Homo sapiens: one gene and its partners. The protein of the gene in region 4 purifies or fractionates together with the protein of the main gene of each other region. This does not show direct contact. Each region holds a gene or a part of one and is shown on either strand. Other genes may lie near its edges. The genes, in order: MTCH2, COX15, SCFD1, SLC25A46, ADGRG5, CHCHD3 and DNAJC11.

Region 1 (3,500 bases), on a different chromosome or scaffold from region 4:
CATCATGTTGCCTCAACTGGTCTCAAACTCCTAGGCTCAAGCAATTTGCCCACCTAGACCTCTCGAAGTGCTAGAATTATAAGCGTGAGCCACTGCACCCAGCCCATTATTTTATTTTCCAATAAAGCTTTGCCTAGATAATAAATAATTTTTTGTTGCAGATTATACACCTCATAGTAATAACAAACCCTAAATTGGTATCTAGGCAAAATCATCCACTAACAAGACTCTAGAAGTATAAGACCAGCTCTGTCAATACCACTGTGACAAATAAGTGGTTATGAAAGGTGAGTTTGGGGGAAAAAAAGAGTCTAAAATCAAGGCCATCATTTTACCAGGATAATAATCTACCTGGATCGTATTTGTAAGTTGAATGTGGGCACTCAAATGGCTTCTAGGTCTCATCTAGGGATTCTTTCTTCTTCATTACTCCTGCTCATGATTTCTAAACATCACATTTTACTATTATGCCAAAGTGAAAACACAGAACACTGTAAAGTGTACATTAACTGGCAGACTAGACTAACTCTAGCTAAAGTGAGCTACAAGAGTTAACTTGGGATTCCAGAGACAATATTTAAGAAAACAAATAAATAAAAATAAAACAAAATAAAATGAGAGAGACAGAGAAAAAGAAATACCTCTTTTTGTAGCATGCACCAACAGTCTATCCAAGACGTATATATTGGGGAGTAAGGAGGGCATCCACCAGCAAGACTAAAATAGAAAAAAACATGGAGCTATTCATGTTAATATTAACCATTCTCTTGAGACGTTGATAAACCTTGTCAAAATATTCTGCTGCACAGAAGATTCCCTGAGAGATCATTTTAGTTCAATGAAACAAATCATATTGAAGCAGGGGAACGATCAAGCATCCAAAAGAGAATTCCTCCCCTATATTTAGGTTTCAAATAAATAAATAAACATAAACTTCAACCTTAATTTCTAAAACATTTAGACTTTTCCTTTGTGGACAAATGAAACTCCAGAACACAGCATTTACATGATTAAAGAGCAGGGAAAGGTGGCCGGGCACGGTGGCTCACACCTGTAATTCCAGCACTTTGGGAGGCCAAGGCAGGTGGATCATTTGAGGTCAGGAGTTCAAGACCAGCCTGGCCAACATGGTGAAACCCCATCTCTACTGAAAATACAAAAACATGAGCTGGCATGGTGGCGCATGCCTGTAATCCCGGCTACTTGGGAGGCTAAGGCATGTGAATTGCTTCAACCCAGGAGGCGGAAGTTGCAGTGAGCCAAGATTGCACTACTGCACTCCAGCCTGGGTGACAGAGTAAGAACCAGTCTTTTTTTAAAAAAAAAAAAAAAAAAAAAGAGCAGGGAAAGGAGATTTAAAAACTAACTGGTGTTCACAAAGATACTAAACATGAAAACGGATATAAACAGTAGATATATATGTTCCTACTTAGGTATAATCACTTCATCTTGAAAAAACTGTAAATAATAATAATACATTTAATTCATCCTTCAAGTTTACACTGTGCTAAAAAATGGCAGTTGCTCTACGTATCAGAAAACATCACAGCTTGCCAGGAGTAACATGAAACAAACAAAACCAGAAAACAAACAATGTAAAATGTTCAAAACTCCACATAGCTATCTGATCTTATTTGAAAACAGTAACATGTTTAATGATATGTCAGGTACCATATGGGAAAAGAATTTTGAATTAAACAAAAAAGGCAAGGCTGGGTGCAGTGGCTCACGCCTGTAATCCCAGCACTTTAGGAGGTCGAGGAGGGTGGACCACTTGAGGTCAGGAGTTCGAGACCAGCCTGGCCAACATGGTGAAACACTGTCTCTACTAGAAATACAGAAATTAGCCGGGGGTGGTGGCAAGTGCCTATAATCCCAGCTACTCTGGAGGCTGAGGCAGGAGAAGTACTTGAACCCAGGAGGTGGAGGATGCAGTGAACCAAGATCGCGCCACCACAATCCAGCCTGAGCAACAGAGCAAGACTCTGTCTCAACAATAACAACAACAAAAAAATACAAAAAATTAGCCAGGCATGCTGGTGGGCACCTGTAATCCCAGCTACTCAGGAGGCTGAGGCAGGAGAATTGCTTGAACCTGGGAGGTGGAGGTTGCAGTGAGTCGAGATTGCACCACTGCACTATAGCCTGGGCAACAGAGTGAGACTCCATCTCAAAAAAAAAAAAAAAAAGGCAAAATTTTGCCCAACTCAGTAGAGTCACTTGGCATCTAGAATTTGGAAATCAATGGAGTCTACCACTATACCAAAACCTGCCCTTCTAACCAATACAGAGAAAAGGTCATCAAACTTTCCATAGACTAAATATCCTAATTCTGGTTCTTTAAAACTCACTTTCTCCATAAAGCCCCTAGGAAAAACAGGTATGGATTGTCATTTAATCCCTGATATACCTTTTGTCACTTTCATAGAAAAGATAAAGATTTAAAATAACAATATGTTGGCTGGGCATGGTGGCTCACCCCTGTAATCCCAGCACTTTAAGAGGCTGAGGAAGGAGAATCACTTGAGCCTAGAAATTTAAGAACAGCCTGGGCAACAAAGTGAGACCCTGTGTCTTCACAAAAAATAATTAGCCAGGCATGGTGGCATGCACATGTACTCCCAACTACTTGGGAAGCTGAGATGGGAGGATCCCTTGAGCTCAGGAGTTCAAGGCTGCAGTGAGCTAGGACTTCACCACCACATTGCAGCCCTATCTCTAAAAAAATTAAAAATAAATAAAAATAGGCCAGGTGCAGTGGCTCACGCCTTTAATTCCAGCGCTTTGGAAGTCCGAGGTAGGCAGATCACCGGAGGTCAGGAGTTCAGGACCAGTCTGGCCAACATAGCAAGACCCCATCTCTACTAAAAATGCAAAAATTAGCCCAGCATGGTGGCACATGCCTGTAATCACAACTTCTTGGGAAGCTGAGGCATGAGAACTGCTTGAATCCAGGAGGTGTCTGTTGCAATGGAGCGAGACTGCACCACTGCACTCCAGCCTGGGTGACAGAGTGAGATTCTGTCTCAAAAAACAAAAACAAAAACAAAAACAAAAACTATAAATAATAATAGTAATTGGCCTGGCATGGTGGTTCATGCCTGTAATCCCAGCACTTTGGGAGACTGAGGCGGGTGGATCACTTGAGGTCAGGAGTTCGAGACCAGCCTGGCCAACATGGTGAAACCCTGTCTCTACCAAAAATACAAAAATATTAGCTGGGCATGGTGGCGAATGCCTGTAATCCCAGCTACTCAGGAGGCTGAGGCGGGACAATCACTTGAATCCAGGAGGTGGAGGTCGCAGTGAGCCGAGATCATGCTACTGCACTCCAGCCTGGGCAACATAGCAAGACTCCATCTCAAAAAAAAAAAAAATAATAATAATAATTAATAAATAAATACAAATTGAGGCTGCTGCTGCATAGGGCATACAAAGAAAAAAATTAGGAATCTTCTAATGGTATCAATTATACTTTTCCTCCCCCCCTTTTTAAAAAA
Region 2 (3,500 bases), on a different chromosome or scaffold from region 4:
TCTGCAACAGGAGTTCTCCAACAGAGAAGATACATCACAATCACCAAGGAAACTTCAAATCTCTGCATCCTTACCTGCTCCCACCCCAAGATTCTGCTTCCTCTAGAGAAGTGGAGTAGAGGCTGTGGTGTGGGGGGAGGGGGAGAGGCTTATTAGCTTAGAAAAATTCCCTTAGTGATTTTGATGCCCTCCTCACCCCGCCACTGAGTGCTACTGATTTATTTTAGAAATGCTCTCCCACAGATGTCTGCATGACTGACTCCCTTATTTCCTCAGCTTCCACTCAGATGTCACCTTACCAAAGAGATTTCGCTTGATGATCCTAGCCCACTTTCTGTCTCCTGACCCTAATTTATTTTTCTTCATGGCACTAAATATCATCTAGCACATTATGTTTCTATTGTGCGTTATCTGTCTTCCCCAAATGCTCAATAAATGTTTGTTGACTGAATACGGAAGTGAGAAAAATCCCAAAACTTATAAACTAAATCCTGGATAAACAAATAAAGAGGGTATTCATGAATTAATGGATGTCTGATCCATTATTTATTATCAAAGAAAATCCAGAAATGTTTGGGTCACACTCGCTTTTTTCTTTCTTTTTTTTTTTGAGACGCAGTCTGGCTCTGTCCCCCAGGCTGGAGTGCAGTGGCATGATCTCGGCTCACTGCAACCTCTGCCTCCAGGGTTCATGCAATTCTTCTGCCTCAGCCTCCCGAGTAGCTGGGACTATAGGTGCGCCCTTTGGTAGAGACGAGGTTTCACCACGTTGACCAGGCTGGTCTCGAACTCCCAACCTCAGGTGATCCGCCTGCCTCGGCCTCCCAAAGTGCTGGGATTACAGGCATAAGCCACCATGCCTGGCCTTTTTTTCTTTTTTTGAGTCAGGGTCTTGCTCTGTCACCCAGGCTGGAGTGCAGCAGCGCAATCTCCGCTCACTGCAGCCTCGACCTCCTGGGCTCAAGCAATCCTCCCGCCTCAGCCCCCTGAGTAGCTGAGACTACAGGTGAATACCACCACACATGGCTAATTTTTGTATTTTTTGTAGAGACGAGGTTTCACCATGTTGCCCAGGCTGGTCTTGAACTCCCTGGCTCAAGCAATCTACCTGCCTCAGCATCCCAAAGTGCTGGAATTACAGGTGTGAGCCACCATGCCCAACCCACTCCATATTTTTTTTAAATGTCCCTTATGAAGTAAAAATTCATGCTCTTATGCCAAAAATAAAAGTGTTGAGTGGCTCATTGGTTTGAATCAATATTATTTTTAGTCCAGAGCAGTACTATCAATAGAACTTTCTGTGAGAGTGGAAGTATTCTATATTTGTGCCAACCAATATACTAGCCCCTAGCCACATGTGCCTGTGGAGCATCTGAAATGTTGCTAGTGTGACTGAAGAACTAAATTTTAAATTTTATTTAACCTTAATTAATTTAAGTTTAAATATCCACATGAGGCTACAGGCTCCTCTACTGGATAGTGCAGTTCTAGAATGAGAGCAGCAGTGGTGGAAGTGTGGGTTAAAGAATGAAAACGGCCAGGCATGGTAGCTCATGCCTGTAATCCCAGCACTTTGGGAGGCTAAGGCGGGTGGATCACCTGAGGTCAGAAGTTCGAGGCCAGCCTGGCCAACATGGTGAAACCCCATCTCTACTAAAAATACAAAAATCAGCTGGGCGTGGTGGTGTGCACCTGTAGTCTTAGCTACTCGGGAGGCTGAGGCACGAGAATCGCTTGGATTTAGGGAGGCAGAGGTTGCAGTGAGCTGAGATCATGCCACTGCACTCCAGCCTGGGCAACAGAGTGAGACTCAGTCTCAAAAAAAAGAATGAAAAAATCCTGTGTTGGTCTCTCTGTGCCAATGAACTCTCCACCTGCAACCATCTCTGAGGGCAAGCCTTTTCTCTGACCCATGTTGATGTAATGTGATGATAACAATGTTTATATATAGTAACAGCTAACACTTATGTAGCCTTTGCTACATGCCAACAACGATGCTACACATTTCACATTTAGCAGTCATACTGTTGTCGTAATCTCCATTTTATAGATAAGGTCTCTAAGGCCCAGAGAGGTTACAGAGCTTGCAAAGGTCATATAGTTCACAGGTAGTGAAGCCAGGATTTGAACCTAGGCCATCTGGATCTAGGTAGATGTTCAATATTTTTGTTCAATTGACAGTAAAGTAGAATTTTTGGAAGAGAGAAAGGAACAGGAAACAGGGTGAAGATGGGGGAATGAGAGAAACAGATGTGAAAAGGAAATATAAAGATGCAGGAGGAAGGGGCAAAGCATTAGGCAAGAGGTCCCAGCTTAGAGTGCAATGCAAACAGGTCATCTTTGATGAGCTGAGTCCTACCTGAGAGGGCCGTAAGGAACACCAGACCTGCTGTTCCATGAGCAAATCGTCTCAACTGTAGGAGTTGGTGGGTTTCAGGCAACTAAATATGAAAAAAAATCATTCAGTTAAACTGTGTTGCAGGAACAATGAGAGGCAGCAAAGATCTCTAAGGCCAAACCCAAGTGACAAATTAAGATCAGATCTTCTCTGACCCCTAGACTAGGTTAAGTACTCCTGGCAGATATTCTGTTCCAACATGTACTGTATTTTATTATAATTATAGATTACTATCTGTTTTCCCTTCTACCCCATAAGTTTTGTGAAGGCAGGAACTGCCATCTTTTTTACTAGAGCAATCTTAGCCTAGTGATTGGCACATAGGTACTCATTACGCATCTGTTCAAAAACTGAATGATTTCCATTATTCAGGAAACAATGCTTCATCACGGTTGAAAGGATGTAGCTTAAGATCAGGACTGGATTTTCATGTGTGTGATATTAGTGTTTAGCAAATATAGTCAGAATCAAAATTGCATAAAGTGCTTAGAGATTCCTCCATTTAGTGTTTTTGATAAAATCAAAATTTGTTTTTATTCTTATTACCAACTTCTAATACTAATAAGTGAATCATCAAATATGAATAAGAACTTTATAAACAGGTGACTATGCCACCCTCAAATGGCTTACACTCTACTATATGAAAAGTTAGGTATCATTACTAACATATTATAGGACAGTATATCAGCACTGTCCAATAGAACTTTCTGTGATGGAAAAGTTCTATCATCTACCTAAGGAGAGCTTGAAACATGTGGCTAGTATGACTGAAAATTAAATAAAAAATTAATTTTATTTAAATATAAAGTTTAAATAAACAAAAAGCTTATGTAAATAAATTTTATTTAATTAAAAAAATTTTTTTTCTCACTTTGTCGCCCAGACTGGAGTGCAGTGGCACAATCTTGGCTCACTGCAACCTCCACCTCCCAGGCTCAAGCGATTCTCCTGCCTCAGCCTCCCAAGTAGCTGGGATTACAGGTGCGCGCCACTATTGCCCAGCTAATTTTTTAACTTTTAGTAGAGATGGGGGTTTCACTATGTTGGCCAGGCTGGTCTCAAACTCCTGACCTCAAATGATCCACCCGCCTCAGCCTCCCAA
Region 3 (3,500 bases), on a different chromosome or scaffold from region 4:
TGTTTTTGATTTTGGAATATTTGCATTATTACTGGTTGAGCATCCCAAATTTCAAAATCCGAGCACCAGCTTAAAAAATTTTGATTTTGGAGCATTTCAGGTTTCAGATATTAAGACTTGGGATGCTCAACCTGTAGTATATTTAGAGCCAATAAGAAAAATGGTTTGTCATTTCAGATAAAGTCATGGTTTAAGCCTTGGGTAAACTCTGATAAAAGTAAAATTACGTTCTTGTAAACTCTGAACACAGGCCGTGTACTCCATTAACAAATCCTTTTTGTTATAGGTATAGGTATACCTATATAGGTATAGGTATATAGGCATATAGGTATACCTATATAGGTATAGGTATATAGGCATATAGGTATACCTATATAGGTATAGGTATATAGGTATATAGGTATATAGGTATATCAATAGGTATATTGATATAGGTAAAAGGTATATCAAAATACCTTTTAATAAGTTAGCCAAGGCTCAAAGTTGGAGAAAATCTCAGACTGGGCTGAGAAGGCGAATGTAGGATTATCTTATTTGCTGCTGCTGGCCTCTTTCAGTTAGCTAAGGCCTAACTGTGCAGCATACTAAACACCTGAGGCTCACATGGCAGCTCAGGCTTTCGTTCTTCCAAGTTGTCAGGCTTCAAGAGTGTGAACAGCTGTTCCCAGAAACAGGGTTTCCTCCCTCTTGGGCGTGAGTGCCAGGGTGGTGGTGTCTTTATTGCCTGGAGGTGGAGGAAGAGCTCTGCAAATGCACAGTGGGAGAGTTAATCCTGAAACCCCCTCCGTGCTTCCTGTGTTATTTCAGTTTTAAGTGTTAAACTGTTTTTTTGTTTATATTAAATATATTTAATATTATAAATACATTAAATAAAATACATTTTTATTTAATGTAAAACCTGTGGGCCTCTGAAGTAGGTAATATTGGTAATGTGTATTTTTGGCTGGACATTAGGTAATAACATTTTACCAAAAATTATGTCTGTAGGTGTATGGTAAATACACCTGATAGCAATAACTTAAGCGTGCCCTGAGAATGACCCTGTATTGCAGACACACCTGGATATGTGTTTCAAGCTAGGGAATCAAAATGGCCCACCTGGAGATTCATTCCTTGTCTGTGAGGAACATCTGAGCCCCCAGCCCATCCAGTGAAACATAGGCCATGCAGTGGATCAAGGCCCCGAGTTTTGGGTTGAATGAAGGTTGCCAGGTGGAGGTTGTTAGGGAAATGTTAAGTGAAAATGCTGTATAAACCACATTTTTGCTATATAAACCACTTTTTGCATGCAGTTATGGTTCTCCTGCCCAGCGCATTGCCACTGAGTATACAGTTCTCCTGTCCAGCCCACTGTCACTGGACTCTCCTATGTGTGTTGCCCCCATTAAAACCCTGTGTCTCATTTCCTGGCTCCGGGTCTCTTCTTAGGCCTCTCAAACATGGGTATCTTCCCCACTGGAGGCAATAAGGGTTCGGCACAACAGTATGTACACACACATAAGTATGCAAATGTATCACTGAAGTACAATCTGTTCAGTAATAGCAGTTTTAACAGCATTATACCTACCTCAGCAAGCAAGCATTTAATAGAAGTTTTTCTTGTGAGTGAATGAATATGCTGTAAGTTGATATTCAGGTGATTTTAGTATTACATAGTTCTCTCGTAGGACTTTGGAGTATAGGTTATTCTGTATTACTTAAAGCCTGATGCAAATGTTTTTAACAATCAACCAAGTGGATTTTAAGGCTGTCAATTTTATAAAAATTAAATCAAGAAATTACAACTAGTATACTCTCTTGAATATTTGGCCATCTCAGTTTCACGAAGAAGTATATTAAGGGATTTTCATTTTCTGTAACACTGTTACAGATGAGTGATAAATAACACAAAATACTGTAACAGACCCGTAACTGTGATTTTTGATGTTGTATATTTGCTTAGCTGGAATTATCAGTTATCTACTATATGGGAAAGTCTGTTTTCCCAAGGGACATAGAATTTTAAGCAACTTTTCGGTGAATCTGACAGGATAAATTGTTTGTAAAATATACTCTTACATAACTATAGACAGATCTGTATGAAGGTTTTGTATATGAACCAATTGAATATGCCATGGATAATTTTGTTTTTAGAAAGACTGATCCAGGCCGGGCGTGGTGGCTCACGCCTGTAATCCCAGCACTTTGGGAGGCCAAGGCGGGTGGATCACCTGAGGTCGGGAGTTCTAGACCAGCCTGACCAACACGGAGAAACCTCATCTCTACTAGAAATACAAAATTAGCCGGGCATGGCAGCGCATGCCTGTAATCCCAGCTACTCGGGAGGCTGAAGCAGAACTGCTTGAACCTGGGAGGCAGAGGTTGTGGTGAGCCGAGATCACGCCATTGCACTCCAGCCTGGGCAACAAGAGCGAAACTCTGTCTCAGAAAAAAAAAAAAAAAAAAAAAAGAAAGACTGATCTTTCTCACTAGGCCACTCACACTTAAAAAAAAAAACAGACAGACAGACTGATCCTTCTCACTAGACCACTCAGACTTAAAAAAAAAAAAAAAAAAGACTTACCTTAATCTATGCTTTCAGCCAGACAGTACACAGGCAACAGCATCAGTATATTGAGGCCATTGCAAGTTCTTCCTGAACATTTCCCGCGATTTCATCTGTGGACAGATGCTTATTGTGTTTTGGGAAATCTCCCAAATACATGTCAATTAGCTGTCGATGGAATAGTCTTACAAGATCTGACCCCTAGTTCTACACATATAGTCATTTGGTTAATCAGTTTTACTAGAGTTGATTAGTTTATTTTGCTTTGGGGTAGTGAATGATGATGGAGGAAAAATAAAATCCTAAAAAACAATGACAATATTTGATAAAACTTTTTATTTTCAGTGGCTTTGAAGCGTATGTTGAATTTCAATGTGCCTCATATTAAAAACAGCACAGGAGAACCAGTATGGAAGGTAAGAGTTTATCTTAATGGGAACTGATTTCTGTTTTTCTCAGCCCTTATTGGTGGTAATTGGAGGGAATTTATTGTAATATGGAAGAAGTAACACATATTAGTTATCATGAATGTTTTATCCTTATTTAACATGATCTCTTAATATGAATTGTTTTGACAGACATTCTATGGAGTGAGACAAGTGATAAAATAGTAATTTTCATCTAGGGAGTCCAGTTGATCTCTTTGGTAGGATGTCACTGATAGGTCTTTTTCCTGGTTGATATTTTGTTCCTTAGCTTTTCAAGTCCAGACTTTGGATTTTATAAGCTTGCTCGGAGTTAGTCACATTCAGAGGGCCTGGATTATTTTAACAAACTCATGAGAAAATGATCTGTAAACTGTAATACCACTTTAATAATTTATGAGATATAAAACTTAATTGAACCAGAAAGCAATCTACAATCTTTTCCTTTGAGAAATACTGGAGAGCCTTTAAAAATTCCAATTCTTTAGGCTTCTTCATTTTAAACTTCATGCAGACTCTCTTTCTTCAGA
Region 4 (2,651 bases):
AAGCTGCCATTTTTAAGACTGCCATGCCACTGAACCACAGAGAAGACAGGAGCCAAGGTAAGTCAAAGCCACAAAGCTTTCCTAACAATAAGTTGCCTTTTTCTTGATTTAACATTCACATAGTTGCTGTAAACTTTTGACTGTTTTCCAGAGTCTGACAAAGTTGGTTCTGACAGTTTCTGGTTGTTTTCTTCTCTTTCCATGGAGGGATGGGAGTCTGGAGCTGCCTATTTGTCATTTTTCTGTTGTTACTCTCCTAGTTGTGAAATGCAGGACAAATCACCTCCTCTCTGTATCTATTTTATTCTTAATCAAACAGCACAACTCCAAAAATGTCATAGGGATGTGGTGAGGAGGCTATAGAGATTTTAAAAAATAGTGTGCAAAAAAGTTTAACTTCACATATTTTGTTGATCTTCCTTTCTACCTAAAAAAATATACTTCATCTTTAACCACCAGCCTGAATAGTTCTCTCACATCAGTAGGAGAAAAACAGTGGCTTTATTTCGACATTTTATTGAACTTTTCATATTACACAATTTACCCAAAACATTTAAAGTAACAGTAAGACAAACTTAAAAAAAAAAAAGTCATACAGACAAAACATCTCTAGGTGAGGCAATATGTAAATTTCATTGTCAAATCATGATTTTGTTACTCTGCTATACAACTTGGTACCATATCAATGATACTAAATGACTCAAGAGTAAGACATTATGCATTCCGTTTATATGAGAAAAAGAGATTATTTACAACTACTTGAAAGAGAAACAGAAATGCCAACAACAGTATCATTCAAATTCTAGTGCAATGTCAATTGTTACCAAGAGATCTTATTTGCTTATATAAATTTTGCAAATAATTCAAACCTGGCTATCTTATTAGAAGCTGACAAAGTATGCTTTTCTGTTGCAAAAGATCAGTGGACAAAAATCCTCCACAACCTCAGCTGATAAAACAAATTTAAGCAGCATTTTTTTTTTCCATTTCCTGAACAGATGTACTAATACTTAGGTAGAAACACTAAAGCATTTGTACTCAATCAATAAAGTGAATGCTTTGTGCAGTTTTAACAAAGCTGCTGCTAAAAAGACAGTTGTGAGTGGTCAGGTATATCTGCAATAGTAAGCAAGTTCTTACCTTTCCAGTTCTGTATGCTTCTGAAAACACCAGCTAAGGTATTAAATACCCATTTTCAAGTGACCTTGTTTTTACTATTTCATATTTATGACATCTAGTGCTGAGATTCTGGGGGCTTTAATAGATAACCTTATTAACCCAGATAATTTTTTTTGGAGCCCATAAAATAAAATTGAGAATGGCATTTCGGGAAGGTCTACATATATGTATTTAGTAAGTTAATTCGTAAGTTCACTTTACATAGTAAATTAATATTTACCAGTTTTTAATTGCTTTCAGTGTACTTGACTCAAATTAAGAAACCCTACAATGTAAGGCAAGTGTATCACAAGCTCCATGGCCAAAATTTGGCTTATATAAGAGGACCAGTGGGCCTGTGGAACATTTAATAGAATCTTTTCCATAATGCTATTAGTTCTACTGAATTAAAAAATATTATTTTGAGCTGTTATTATCTTAAGAAGTATAGCCCATGGATATTTGATTTGGCACCCATGTTAAAGAAAAATAACAATTTTTAAAAGGGAACGAGCGTATCTTACAGTTATCTCACTCATTCTTTTCAAAATTCAGTGCAACATATTTGGCTAGCTTAAATTTAAGTGCGTGACCGTTCAAGATTTTGTTTCAACTAATTTGGAGTGGTTGTAAAAAATTATTCATATTTTACTTTCTACATTTCAATTTTAATGTTAATTTGTATTCTCTTTCTCCAAAAAGGAAAACAAGATCAACCTTATTTGTGTATGGTTCAGCCTATCAGTCTTATAATTATTCTACAATAAAATGAATTTATGTAACTAACTATTTTCATGCTAACTTCCAAAAAATATCCTGAAATATTTAATTTTTAGCTAAACAAAGGATCCTACAGATTTTCACTAGTAAATACTTGATTCTATTCAGATTCTTTTCTAGAAATTTTTCAAACTTGAAATTTTCTGGTTTACTCTTATCTGAAACTATCCTAATTGAAAACAATTTAAATGCTATTGGTTGGACAAAGTAAACCTTAATCTAAAATAGTCACCATAAAATATAAAATGTGATCAGTGGTGTTTAATTTTATTTTCCCCCTTTTGGTGGAATTTAAAAATGGAAAATGTAGGTGTTTCAGTAACTACACACACACACACACGAGAGATTTGCTACTTATTACTGTTTTTACACTTTTTGGATATCACTTTTTTGTTCCAACACTACTATTTGCAAAAAGTAACCATTTCTGTGACATTTAGCAAGTAAAATGAATTTCTATTCGTATGCATTCTTGGTTGGACAATATCAGTGCAAAGTCACTGTGCTTCAGAGCGCTAAATGGTTCATGATACAACTGTGATTATTCACGTGAAGACATGAAACTTTAAAATGTCTAATGATAGAGCAGACACATATCATTTTACTACACAAAGTGCTTAACCCACCAAATTACATTTAGGAATAGACAAAATGTTTTTATTAAACTGATTAGTAATTTTTTTGCTTATTATATGTTGAAATGTACAAATGTA
Region 5 (3,500 bases), on a different chromosome or scaffold from region 4:
AGTGATCTGGATAGAAGATCAAACCAGCCCCCGGCCAACGTTCCCTTAAGCCAAAGCCTAGTTCAGAGCAAGGCCCTAACTCTTCAATTCTATGAAGGCCAAGGTGGGTGAGGAAGCTGAAAAAACGTGGAAGCTAGCAGAGGTTGGTTCATGAGGTTTCAGGAAAAAAGCCATCTCCATGACATAGCAGTACAAAGTGAAACAGCAAGTGCTGATGGAGAAGCAAGTTATCCACAAGAACTAGCTAACATCATGCATGAGGGTGGCCACATTAAACAACAGAATTTCAGTGTAGATGAAAGAGCCTCATATTGGAAGCGGATGCCATCTAAGAGTTTCATAGCCAGAGAGAAGAAATCAATGCCTGGTTTCAAAGCTTCAAAGGACAGGCTAACTCCCTTGTTAGCGGGTAATGCAGCTGGTGACTTTCAATGGAAGCCAATACTCATTTAACATCCTGAAAATCCTAGGTCTCTTAAGAGTTATGCTAAATCTATTCTGCCTGTGCTCTACAAATGGAATAACAAAGCCTGGATGATAGCAATCTATTTATAGCATAGTTTCCTGAATATTTTAAACCCACTGTTAAGACCTACTACTCAAAAAAAAAAAAAGATTTATTTCAAAATATTTCTGCTCATCGACAATGTACCTAGTCACCCAAGAGCTCTGATGGAGATGCACAAGGAGATCAATGTTGTTCTCGTGCTGCTAACACAACATCCATTCTGCAGCCCATGGATCAAGGAGTCATTTCGACCTTCAAGTCTTATTATTTAGGAAACAAATTTCATAAGGCTATAGCTGTCATAGATAGTGATTTCTCTGATGGATCAGGGCAAAGTAAATTGAAAATCTGGAAAAGATTCACCCTTCTAGATGCTGCAAGAACATGTGATTGTGATTCATGGGAAGAAGTCAAAATATCAACATTAACAGGAGTTTGGAAGAGGTTGATTCCATGCTTCATGGACGACTTTGAGGGGTTCAAAACTTCAGTGGGGAAAGTAATTACAGATGTGATTAGAATAGCAAGAGAACTAGAATTAGTAGTGGATCCTGAAGATGTGACTGAATTGCTGCAGTCTCATGATCAAACTTGAATGGATGGGGAGTCGCTTCTCATAGATGAACAATGAGTGGTTTTTTGAAATGGAATCTACTCCTGGTGAAGATATGGTGAACACTGTGGAAATGACAACAAAAGATTTAGAATATTAAATAAATGTAGTGGATAAAGCCCCTGCAGGGTTTGAGAGGACGGACTCCAATTTTGAATGAAGCTCTACCGTGAGTAAAATACTATCAAACAGCATCACATGCTACAGAAAAACATCTTATGAAAGGAAGAGTCAACTGATGTGGCAAACTTCACTGCTGTCTTAAGAAACAGCCAGCCACCCCAACCTTCAACCACCACCACCTTGATCAGCATCAAGGCAAGACTTTCCACCAGCAAAAAAGCGTGTGATTTGTTGAAGGCTCAGATAGATTGCTAGTACTTTTTAGCAATAAAGTGTCCTTTAACTAAGGTATGTACATTTTTAGACATAATGCTTTTGTACACTAAATAGACTACAGTATAATGTAAACATAACTTTTTTCATGTGTGAGACAGTCTCGCTCTGTTGCCCAGGCTGGAATGCAGTGGTGCGATCTCAGCTCACTGCAACCTCCGCCTCCACCTCACAGGTTCAAGTGATTCTCCTGCCTCAGCCTCCCAAGTAGATGGGATTACAGGCACACACCACCATGCTCGGCTAATTTTTGTATTTTTAGTAGAGATGGGGTTTCACCATGTTGGCCAGGATGGTCTCGATCTCCTGACCTCATGATCCGCCCGCCTCGGCCTCCCAAAGTGCTGGGATTACAGACATGAGCCACCGTGCCTGGCCGTAAGCATCACTTTTATATGCACTGGGAAACCAAACAATTTGTGTGACTCACTTTATTACCATATTTGCTTTACTGTGGTGGTCTAAAACCAAACCCACAATATCTCCAAGATATGCCTGTAAAACTCCTTGGAAAAAACAAAAAAGAAAATCCTTCTGACTTAGGTTATGCAAAGATTTCTTAGAAACAACACCAAAAACGTGATCCATGGCAACAACAACAACAAAAAACTGATAAGTTGAATTTCATCAAAATTAAAACTTCTGCTTTTTGAAAGTCATGGTTAGCAAAACGAGAAGATAAGCCACAGACTGGGAGAAAATATTTACAAACACATATCTGATGTTTTTAAAAAATTGTATCTGGACTACATAAAGAACTCTTACACAACTAATAAGAGGACAAACAACCCAATAAATATAGGAAAAGATTTGAACAATCACTATACCAATGAAGATGTATATAGATGGGCCGGGCGCGGTGGCTCATGCCTGTAATCCCAGCACTTTGGGAGGCCGAGGCGGGTGGGTCACCCAAGGTCAGGAGTTTGAAACCAGCCTGGCCAACATGGTGAAACCCCTGTCTCTACTAAAAATACAACAATTAGCCAGGTGTGGTAGCATGTGCCTGTAATCCTAGCTGCTCAAGAGTCTAAGGCAGGAGAATTGCTTCAACCCAGGAGGAGGAGGCTGCAGTGAGCTGAGATCATGCCACTGCATTTCAGCCTGGGTGACAGAGCTGGAACTACATGTTAAAAAAAAAAATGTATAGATGCAAATAAGCACATGAGAAACACTCAATATCATTAGTCATTAGAGAAATGCATATAAAAACCACAATCAGATATCACTACACACCTTCTAGAATGACTAGGATTAAAATGGTAATACAAAGTATTATGAGGATATAGAACAGCTGGAAGCCTCATTCATTTCTGGAGGGAATGTAACATGGAAGTGGAATCTAGAAAAGTCAAAACTATTGGATCAGAGAACAAATCAGTAGTTGCCAGGGAGTAGGGAAAAGATATTAACTACAAAAGGGCCTGAGACAACTTTTCAGGGGACAGCAATGTTCTATATTTTGATTGTAATATACATGTATACATGACTGTACACATCTGTCAAAATGCAAAAACTCCTCTCCAAAAGGGTGAATTTTATTGTATGTATACCTCTATAGACAAGACTTTAGAAATCCAATCAAAAAACATATTAAGAGGATGAAGAAGAGGAAATAGGGGAGGGAGGGCAAGAGAACTGATGATCCTCCTCTTAGAGAAAGGAAGTCAACAAAAACTTGCAAGGCTTCAAGAGGGAGAGCCACAAAACTCAAAATATGTGTTTGATGGTAGTGGCAGAGGAAAGTAGTTAAGAACATGAGTTCTCATTTTTCCACCATTGGATCTGCAAAGATCTGAAATATGATAGCACCCAGTGAGTCTGTAGGGACAGGCACATTCCTGCACTCTCTGTCTAAGATCTGAGCCTCATCTGCAAGGGGACGGCTTAGCAACACATTCGAACTTTACGTTCTGAATATCCTTTAAGCCAGGAAACTCATTCTTATGAATTTATCCTATGGAAAGAATAGGGCAAGCCAGG
Region 6 (3,500 bases), on a different chromosome or scaffold from region 4:
TATAACTACATCAAATTAGACTGCAGAAAGGCATGCTGTGTAACTTAAACACTAGATTTAGTTGGGTTAGAAGGTCAAATCTATGGAGTTTGTCAGCAGAAGGAATCAACGTTTCCAACAATTTCTGCCTCTCAGAACAACCATATCCAACTGTTAAATTGGTTAAATGATAGGCAATTATGTGACCTGCCAGAATTGATAATTTGCTTCAGGGTTTATCATTAGCTTTCTAAAGTACATAAATTAGAGAAAATGCACGTCCTGTGAACATCATATTGTTCTGATATGAAGGGTCAAGAGAAGAATATGGCTATGGTCTATAAAAGCAGTGGAAATTCTTTTTAAAATGCTATCTCTGGTTTCCCTTTCCCTGTCCAACTAAGTGAACTCTATCAACTGGTGGAAGCGTTGGACAGTGACTGAACGGTGGTGTTTTGTTTTTTTTTTAACCTGGCCCTCTGCCTACCTACGGCTTATGGGCCCAAAGGTGCCAGCTCTTAATCTGTATCCTCTTCGCTAGCTCTAAATATTGGCCTAAAAGTATGAGGAATGACCTTGGGAACATTATTATTAGAAGACAAAAGTTCAGGGCAAGTGGAAAAAAGTATAATTGTAGTAGAATCCTTTTTTCTGCAAGTAAATGAGTTGTACATAAGGAAGATATGGGCTCTTTGACAATGATCGGACACAAGTTATGCCCTAATCAACTCATTACAGTAATTCTTGATGATGATGACTAGGGCTTAGAAAGCTTTTTCACACACAGTGGCCCATTTAGTCCTTACCACTGCCCCAGGTCATCCAGTTTTCAATTTGCCCAGTGCCCCCAGTGGCCTGGCTGGCACACCTACCTGTTTGGCATGATTGACACAGTGCATATACTGGGTGGCCAGAGCGGAGCATTTGAGGGTCTGGTGGGTGTTCTCACGGTAACACTGAAGAATTTTGGCCTGCAGATCAGCACAGACTGGATGAGACTCATATCGCCTGAAAACAAACACAGGGACCGCTGAGACCAATGGTCTTCATTCAGAATAAAAATCAAGGTTAAAGAACACATAAAACGCACAGTAAGACACAGATGTTGCAAATGTAGAAAAAGGTTTAAGAGAAAGAATTTTCCTTAAACTTCAAAGATAGCTAAATTTTTCCCATGATAAAAATGACAAAGGGTAAATAAATTCTAAGAAATTAGTTCCACTAATTGACACTACTGTGAGTTAGTCTGGACAATATAACCATCCCTTCCAAACCGAAACCATATCAACATGCCAGAAACTTGGAAGCCCTAAGTTCTCTCTTCCATTCCCATATCCACTTGGTCACAAAGTTGGAGATCCCTACGGCCTGGTCCTCCTGCTCCACACTCACTGTCGTTACATTGCTTCCAAGTGAGCCACATCCTGAATTCAAGAAACAACCTCCCAGCTGGTCTCTCAGCTTTGACACCCTCTACTCCTGCCTGCACACACCTTCCAGAGGGTTCTTTCCCATAGGAAATCGAAGATGGTCTCTTTTCCCAGCACTTTCTACACAAAATACAAGGCCAGCTGGCTGGTCCTTCTTGACCAGGTTCCTGCCTACTCTGTGGCCTTCACCCCCCAACCCTGCACACAGCTGAAGCCTGGACAAACCCAATTCAGGGTTTCGTTCTTACACTTCTCTTCAAGTCTAAGCTCATGCTGCTCTTGCTTCTGGAAATGCTCTACGCCCAAACTCCCACCTATGCCTCTATATCTGGAAAAAACCTACTCATCCTTTGATACTTCACTCAAGTGTCAGCTTTCATTAGCTCTCCACCCCCCAACCCTGGTACAGTCTATCATTCCCTTTATGGTGACCCCATTGGTCCCGTATTCACTTTTCTTGCCATGCATGTGACACTGACTACACCATAGTCTAATACAATTTAGCAACCTACATTTACTAGAATGTAAATTCCAAGGACTGTGACTTATTTTCTTTGTTACCTCAGCTATTAGACATCGGAACCCTACAGAAGTCATGTAATACATTTACTGAATGAATACAAATCGGTGCAAAGAAAACATTTTAAAGTCCCCTGGGTTAAAATTTTGCTACTTATACTTACAAATCTCAGATTTTAGTCAGATTGCTTCTGTGAATATGTGAGACCAAATGTAAATGTTTCCAAAAACCTTATAATATATGCTTGAAAAATGATAATGAACCAAATGAGTTATACGAATGAAGGTAAAATATTCTGATTAATACGGCAGGGAAGTTTGGACTGCAAGGATTAAATACATACAGAGAAAAAAAGCACAATATTACTACTTTTAATCTTGAAATTCGTGTTTTTTCAAATTAGTCTTAATACAAGAAGCTTCCAGTCTTATCACTTCTATTTTTGAAATTTAAATTTGTTATTTCCATAGTAATCTTGAAATCACATTATTTTAAATTTAATGGGTTCAAACAAAACCCCTAGAGAACACAGGGGGAATATTTCTCATCAATAAGGAAACGCCTGGGTGATGATTTGTCTCATTATTTTTATCCAGTACACTAAGCTAATATATATTTTACTAGAATAGAAATGCAAAGCATGTTGGTGGTTCCCTGACTTCCTACTATCCTCTAAAGAACACAGACATACAGAGAAAAAAAAATGTTTCAACAATTTTTCTATAACATCACTTTTACTTTTTCATTCATTACCTTACTGCTTTGTCAAATACCTAAGAACAGAATTAAATAGAATCCCAGGAGTTTCCATGCTTTAAGATTTCAAACTTCAGATGTCTGTGAATTTTTCTGGACACAGATTTCCCTAATCCTTTACCACGAACATCAGGATTTAAAAGGAATCAGCCGTGCTTCAAAGAGTATAGGCACAGATACCACTAAGTGACTAATTATAGCAAGACCTGCATCTAGATAAATATCGAATAAAATATGATTAAGCATCAGATCAGCTGAACCTAGCAAATACATGACTAATGACTAATAGCTCATAGGAAAGCAAGGTTACATTCTATCCTAGTGTTGACAACTGATCGTGTCTCCAATGTGTCTCAGATTTAAAAGCAGGGGGAAGGAGGTGAGGAGGGAAGGCTAGAACAACCCTGACCAGATATGCAGCCCTTCCTCATTAACATACGGGAAAAGACTGTAAAAATGAGCATCCACACACTGCATGTCATAAAGAAGACAGTTTATTTTTTCCTTTAAAAAGTCTACTCACGATGGGATAATTCACCTCATGTTATGGACTCCTTAGAAAGAGGTAGTTTAAGTTGTAGATAAGCATGTATCCTGGGTTGAGCTATTAGTCATGCAAGTTAAAGTCCATGCGTTATTTATGATTTGAAATGTGTCAAAATATACTTTTATCACCACAAATCAATACTACTCACTTCCAGGGCTCTTGATTTCCTGTTTGGTGATCTGTTCTGTGTGTGTGTGTGTGTGTGTGTGTGTGTGTGTGTGTGTGTGTGCAGTCATCCTCTGAAATTCTTTTTGTACACACTTCAATC
Region 7 (3,500 bases), on a different chromosome or scaffold from region 4:
GTAAGCAAAACTTCAAACTTATCAAAATCCAAGAAATAACAATATATATTAACTAAATACCTACTTATGACAGGCAATTTATATACATTCTCAGCACCTAGCAACGCACATACCACACAGGTCATCCTGGCCTACAGTAAGTGCTTAAGCCATTATTACCTGTTACCTACATTCTAACATTAAAGAAACTGATGGCCAGGTGCAGTGGCTCATGCCTGTAATCCCAGCACTTTGGGAGGCCGAGGCGGATGGATCACGACGTCAGGAGTTTGAGACCAGTCTGGCCAACATAGTGAAACCCTATCTCTACTAAAAAAAAAAAAAAAAAAAAAAAAAAAAAAATTAGCCGGGTGTACTGGTGTGTGCCTGTAATCCCAGCTACTTGGGAGGCTGAGGCAGGAGAATTGCATGAACCTAGGAGGTGGAGGTTGCAGTGAGCTGAGATTGCGCCATTGCACTCCAGCCAGGGTGACAGTGTGAGACTCCATCTCAAAAAAAAAAAAAGAAATTGAGAAACAGAAAGGTTAAATTACTAGCGTTGAAGCATAGAACTTCCAGAAGAGTAAAATGGGATTTGAATACTGGACTCCAGCTGCAAAGCCCTACATAGTGGCCTCCCTCTATCCCATTGTTAACTAAGAAGTACTGGTGCCTCCATTCTGCAGGTAAGTAGAGGCTGAGGTTAAATGACTCGTTGAAGGTCACACAAGAGGCAGGCAGCATGGGCTGAAATTCTTGCTTCTCAGCCTCTTGGCTTACAGAACACCCTATGGAATGCAGACATCTGAATAAGTTGTTTTTGGACAACCGAGGCTTAATTCTATGTGCCTGAGGCACACATTTAACTGGAGTCATTATAAATATCAAACTTTAACATAATGTAGTAGATGGAAAATGAAGGAACTGACCTTTTCAGAGCCATCTTTATTTTTTATTAAGACAAAATTAACTGCCCATCATGAAGTTTGATAAGAAAGCAATAAATGTGTAAACACACACCACCTCACTGCTTTAGGTATTTGAGTCGCTCAAATTGGCACAGTTGAGCCTTTTACATGTCAATTTCTGCAGATGGCTGAGTCAGTGGTCCTGATTGGAGGGTCTGCTGTCTCCTTCTTTGTGGGTGACTTTGACCCTAGGACAATCTTGCCAGTGACCAGGGGACCTTCCTCTACTCTTCTAGCCCTTCCTTTCCATCTGCAGCTCAAACTCAACTGTTGGGCCTCACTCTGTGGCTGTAACCTGCAGCTAAGGAAACCCCAACAACACACAATTGTGAAAATAATGATCTACCCTGTACCAGAGAAGGAATGAAAATGCAGGGACTTGGGGTAAACTTTTTACTGGTAGGTGATACTTTTGTACTTCTAGTTTCATGGCTGTTCTGGAAGGATGAAGATCTCAGAACACTGACCTCCATATATGGACTGCAAGAAAAAAACTATTTATTAACAACTTCATTTTTTACTTAACTGTGTTTTTCCAAAAGTGTTTAAAAGTTGAAAAGGAGGATGGCTCCTTAAGGTTAAAACAATTGGGACCAGAGGTCTTCAAACAGGTTACAAACACTGCAAAAATGAAATTCTTTCAAAGACAATGATAAAGTTAGAACTGTAGCCATTTGTCTTGGGAATAAATTAGGTTTGAAATGTGTCAATTAAATTTCCTAATTAATGGATCAGGTAAATTTAACTCTGATTTATAGTTAAGGAATCCTTTCTCCAAATAAATTTTGGAAAATCATCCTGGAAATCTCAGAGGAGTGAGATTTTAGGAACCAGATGATGCATCTAACACTAAACCAGAAAACCTGTCTGGCTTTGGTGTGCCCAGTGAGTGATAAAGTACTCCCTCCTCTCAGTGTGAGGCAGGCACGACAGATGATGGCCCTGCTCTGTAAACAGGAAATCTAGAAGGAGAATCATTAAAGATCATGTGTCTTGTCATAGGAGAACGGGGGGTCCTTTCCAGCTGCCTGCTTCACTCTCTCCAACGGCGGCAACAATGGGGTCTCCAACCTTTTAGCACCACGGACTGGTTTCATGGAAGATAATTTTTCCACAGACTAGTGGGAGTGGAATGAAACTGTTCCACCTGGGATCATCAGGCATTAGTCAAATTCTCATAAAGAGGACCTAACCTAGATCCCTTGCATGTGCAGTTCCCAATAGGGTTCATGCTCCTATGAGAAGCTAATGCCACCACCAATCTGACAGGCAGAGCTCAGGCGGTGATGCTTGCTTGCCCGATGCTAACCGCTTGCTTGCCCGACGCTAACCGCTTGCTTGCCCACCACTCACCTCCTGCTGTGCGGCCCAATTCCTAACAAGCCACAGACCAGTACTGGTCCATGGCCAGGGGGTTGAGGACCCCTGCTCTAGAATACAAATTTAAGGGGATATTTTAAAGTTTAAATCCTGGAGAGGGAGATTCTTCAGCTGATTGTTGACATTTCTATATTAATCCAATTATATACCTCTATTATGCTTATAATTTTTTTTTTTTTGAGACAGAGTCTTGCTCTGTCACCCAGGCTGGAGTGCAGTGGCGCAATCTCGGCTCACTGCAAGCTCCGCCTCCTGGGTTCACACCATTCTCCTGCCTCAGCCTCCTACAGGCGCCCGCCACCACGCCCGGCTAATTTTTTGTATTTTTAGTACAGACGGGGTTTCACCGTGTTAGTCAGGATGGTCTCCATCTCCTGACCTCGTGATCCGCCCGTCTTGGCCTCCCAAAGTGCTGGGATTACAGGCTTGAGCCACGCGCCCAGCCTATGCTTATAATTTTAAAGTAGGATTCCCTGGTTTTGTCTAGAATTGTTTCCATTTGAGATTTCTAAAGAAAACTCTCTGAACTCTACTGAACATTGAGAGTTTTGAGGACACTCTTTTGAAGGTACTTTGAAGTATCAGTGGGAACAGGGCCTTGCCTCTCACAGCTATACTTAAATGGCAACTACTCTAGAACTGACAGCAAACACACAAACAGGTATTAAGATATTCTTCCAACCACACATTAAGATTTAAGATTACTCTGACTTTTTTCCAACTAAATCACGTTATTTCAACTTCACGTTTGATTTCACACAAAAAATTCCAGCAAATATCAAGTTCAGACATCACCTTCAGAGCTTCTAATGGAATCCCGGGATGGAAAACCAGCACACCACACCTGAGTATGACATTTAACACCGAGTTTGCTGACGAAGACAACAGAAAGTGACTTCTGCAAGGGAGCATGTTTCATATGGATTTAACCTATAGCCATATAGCCATAAATATGGAAAGTGCCTTCACTCATTGGGAGAAGTAAAAAAAAAAAAAAAATTTAAGAAATATTTTTTGGCTGGGTGCAGTGGCTCATGCCTGTAATCCCAGCACTTTGGGAGGCTGAGATGGGTGGACTGCTTGAGCTCAGGAGTTTGAGACCAGCCTGGGCAACACAGTGAGACCCTGTCTCTACAAAAACTACAAAAATCAGCCAGCTGTGGTGGTGTGTGC

The links.
Region 1: the proteins of SLC25A46 (region 4) and MTCH2 purify together in Homo sapiens (affinity purification with western blotting; one large-scale study listed by BioGRID). This does not show direct contact.
Region 2: the proteins of SLC25A46 (region 4) and COX15 purify together in Homo sapiens (affinity purification with mass spectrometry; one large-scale study listed by BioGRID and IntAct). This does not show direct contact.
Region 3: the proteins of SLC25A46 (region 4) and SCFD1 fractionate together in Homo sapiens (co-fractionation; one large-scale study listed by BioGRID). This does not show direct contact.
Region 5: the proteins of SLC25A46 (region 4) and ADGRG5 purify together in Homo sapiens (co-immunoprecipitation; one large-scale study listed by IntAct). This does not show direct contact.
Region 6: the proteins of SLC25A46 (region 4) and CHCHD3 purify together in Homo sapiens (affinity purification with western blotting; one large-scale study listed by BioGRID). This does not show direct contact.
Region 7: the proteins of SLC25A46 (region 4) and DNAJC11 purify together in Homo sapiens (affinity purification with mass spectrometry, with the first as the bait; one large-scale study listed by BioGRID). This does not show direct contact.

What each region holds. Positions count from the first base shown.
Region 1 is NC_000011.10:47,622,060-47,625,559, forward strand, and holds part of MTCH2 (mitochondrial carrier homolog 2), read right to left. Parts: intron 718-3,500; coding exon 642-717; intron 1-641. UniProt on the Homo sapiens protein: Protein insertase that mediates insertion of transmembrane proteins into the mitochondrial outer membrane. Catalyzes insertion of proteins with alpha-helical transmembrane regions, such as signal-anchored, tail-anchored and multi-pass membrane proteins.
Region 2 is NC_000010.11:99,718,628-99,722,127, forward strand, and holds part of COX15 (heme A synthase COX15), read right to left. Parts: intron 2,442-3,500; coding exon 2,360-2,441; intron 1-2,359. UniProt on the Homo sapiens protein: Catalyzes the second reaction in the biosynthesis of heme A, a prosthetic group of mitochondrial cytochrome c oxidase (CcO). Heme A is synthesized from heme B by two sequential enzymatic reactions catalyzed by heme O synthase (HOS) and heme A synthase (HAS).
Region 3 is NC_000014.9:30,625,319-30,628,818, forward strand, and holds part of SCFD1 (sec1 family domain-containing protein 1), read left to right. Parts: intron 1-2,890; coding exon 2,891-2,961; intron 2,962-3,500. UniProt on the Homo sapiens protein: Plays a role in SNARE-pin assembly and Golgi-to-ER retrograde transport via its interaction with COG4. Involved in vesicular transport between the endoplasmic reticulum and the Golgi.
Region 4 is NC_000005.10:110,763,007-110,765,657, reverse strand, and holds the end of SLC25A46 (mitochondrial outer membrane protein SLC25A46), read right to left. Parts: 3' UTR 501-2,651; downstream 1-500. UniProt on the Homo sapiens protein: Transmembrane protein of the mitochondrial outer membrane that controls mitochondrial organization.
Region 5 is NC_000016.10:57,549,143-57,552,642, reverse strand, and holds part of ADGRG5 (adhesion G-protein coupled receptor G5 isoform 1 precursor), read right to left. Parts: intron 1-3,500. UniProt on the Homo sapiens protein: Orphan adhesion G-protein coupled receptor (aGPCR). Ligand binding causes a conformation change that triggers signaling via guanine nucleotide-binding proteins (G proteins) and modulates the activity of downstream effectors, such as adenylate cyclase.
Region 6 is NC_000007.14:132,795,591-132,799,090, forward strand, and holds part of CHCHD3 (MICOS complex subunit MIC19), read right to left. Parts: intron 988-3,500; coding exon 852-987; intron 1-851. UniProt on the Homo sapiens protein: Component of the MICOS complex, a large protein complex of the mitochondrial inner membrane that plays crucial roles in the maintenance of crista junctions, inner membrane architecture, and formation of contact sites to the outer membrane.
Region 7 is NC_000001.11:6,695,317-6,698,816, forward strand, and holds part of DNAJC11 (dnaJ homolog subfamily C member 11), read right to left. Parts: intron 1-3,500.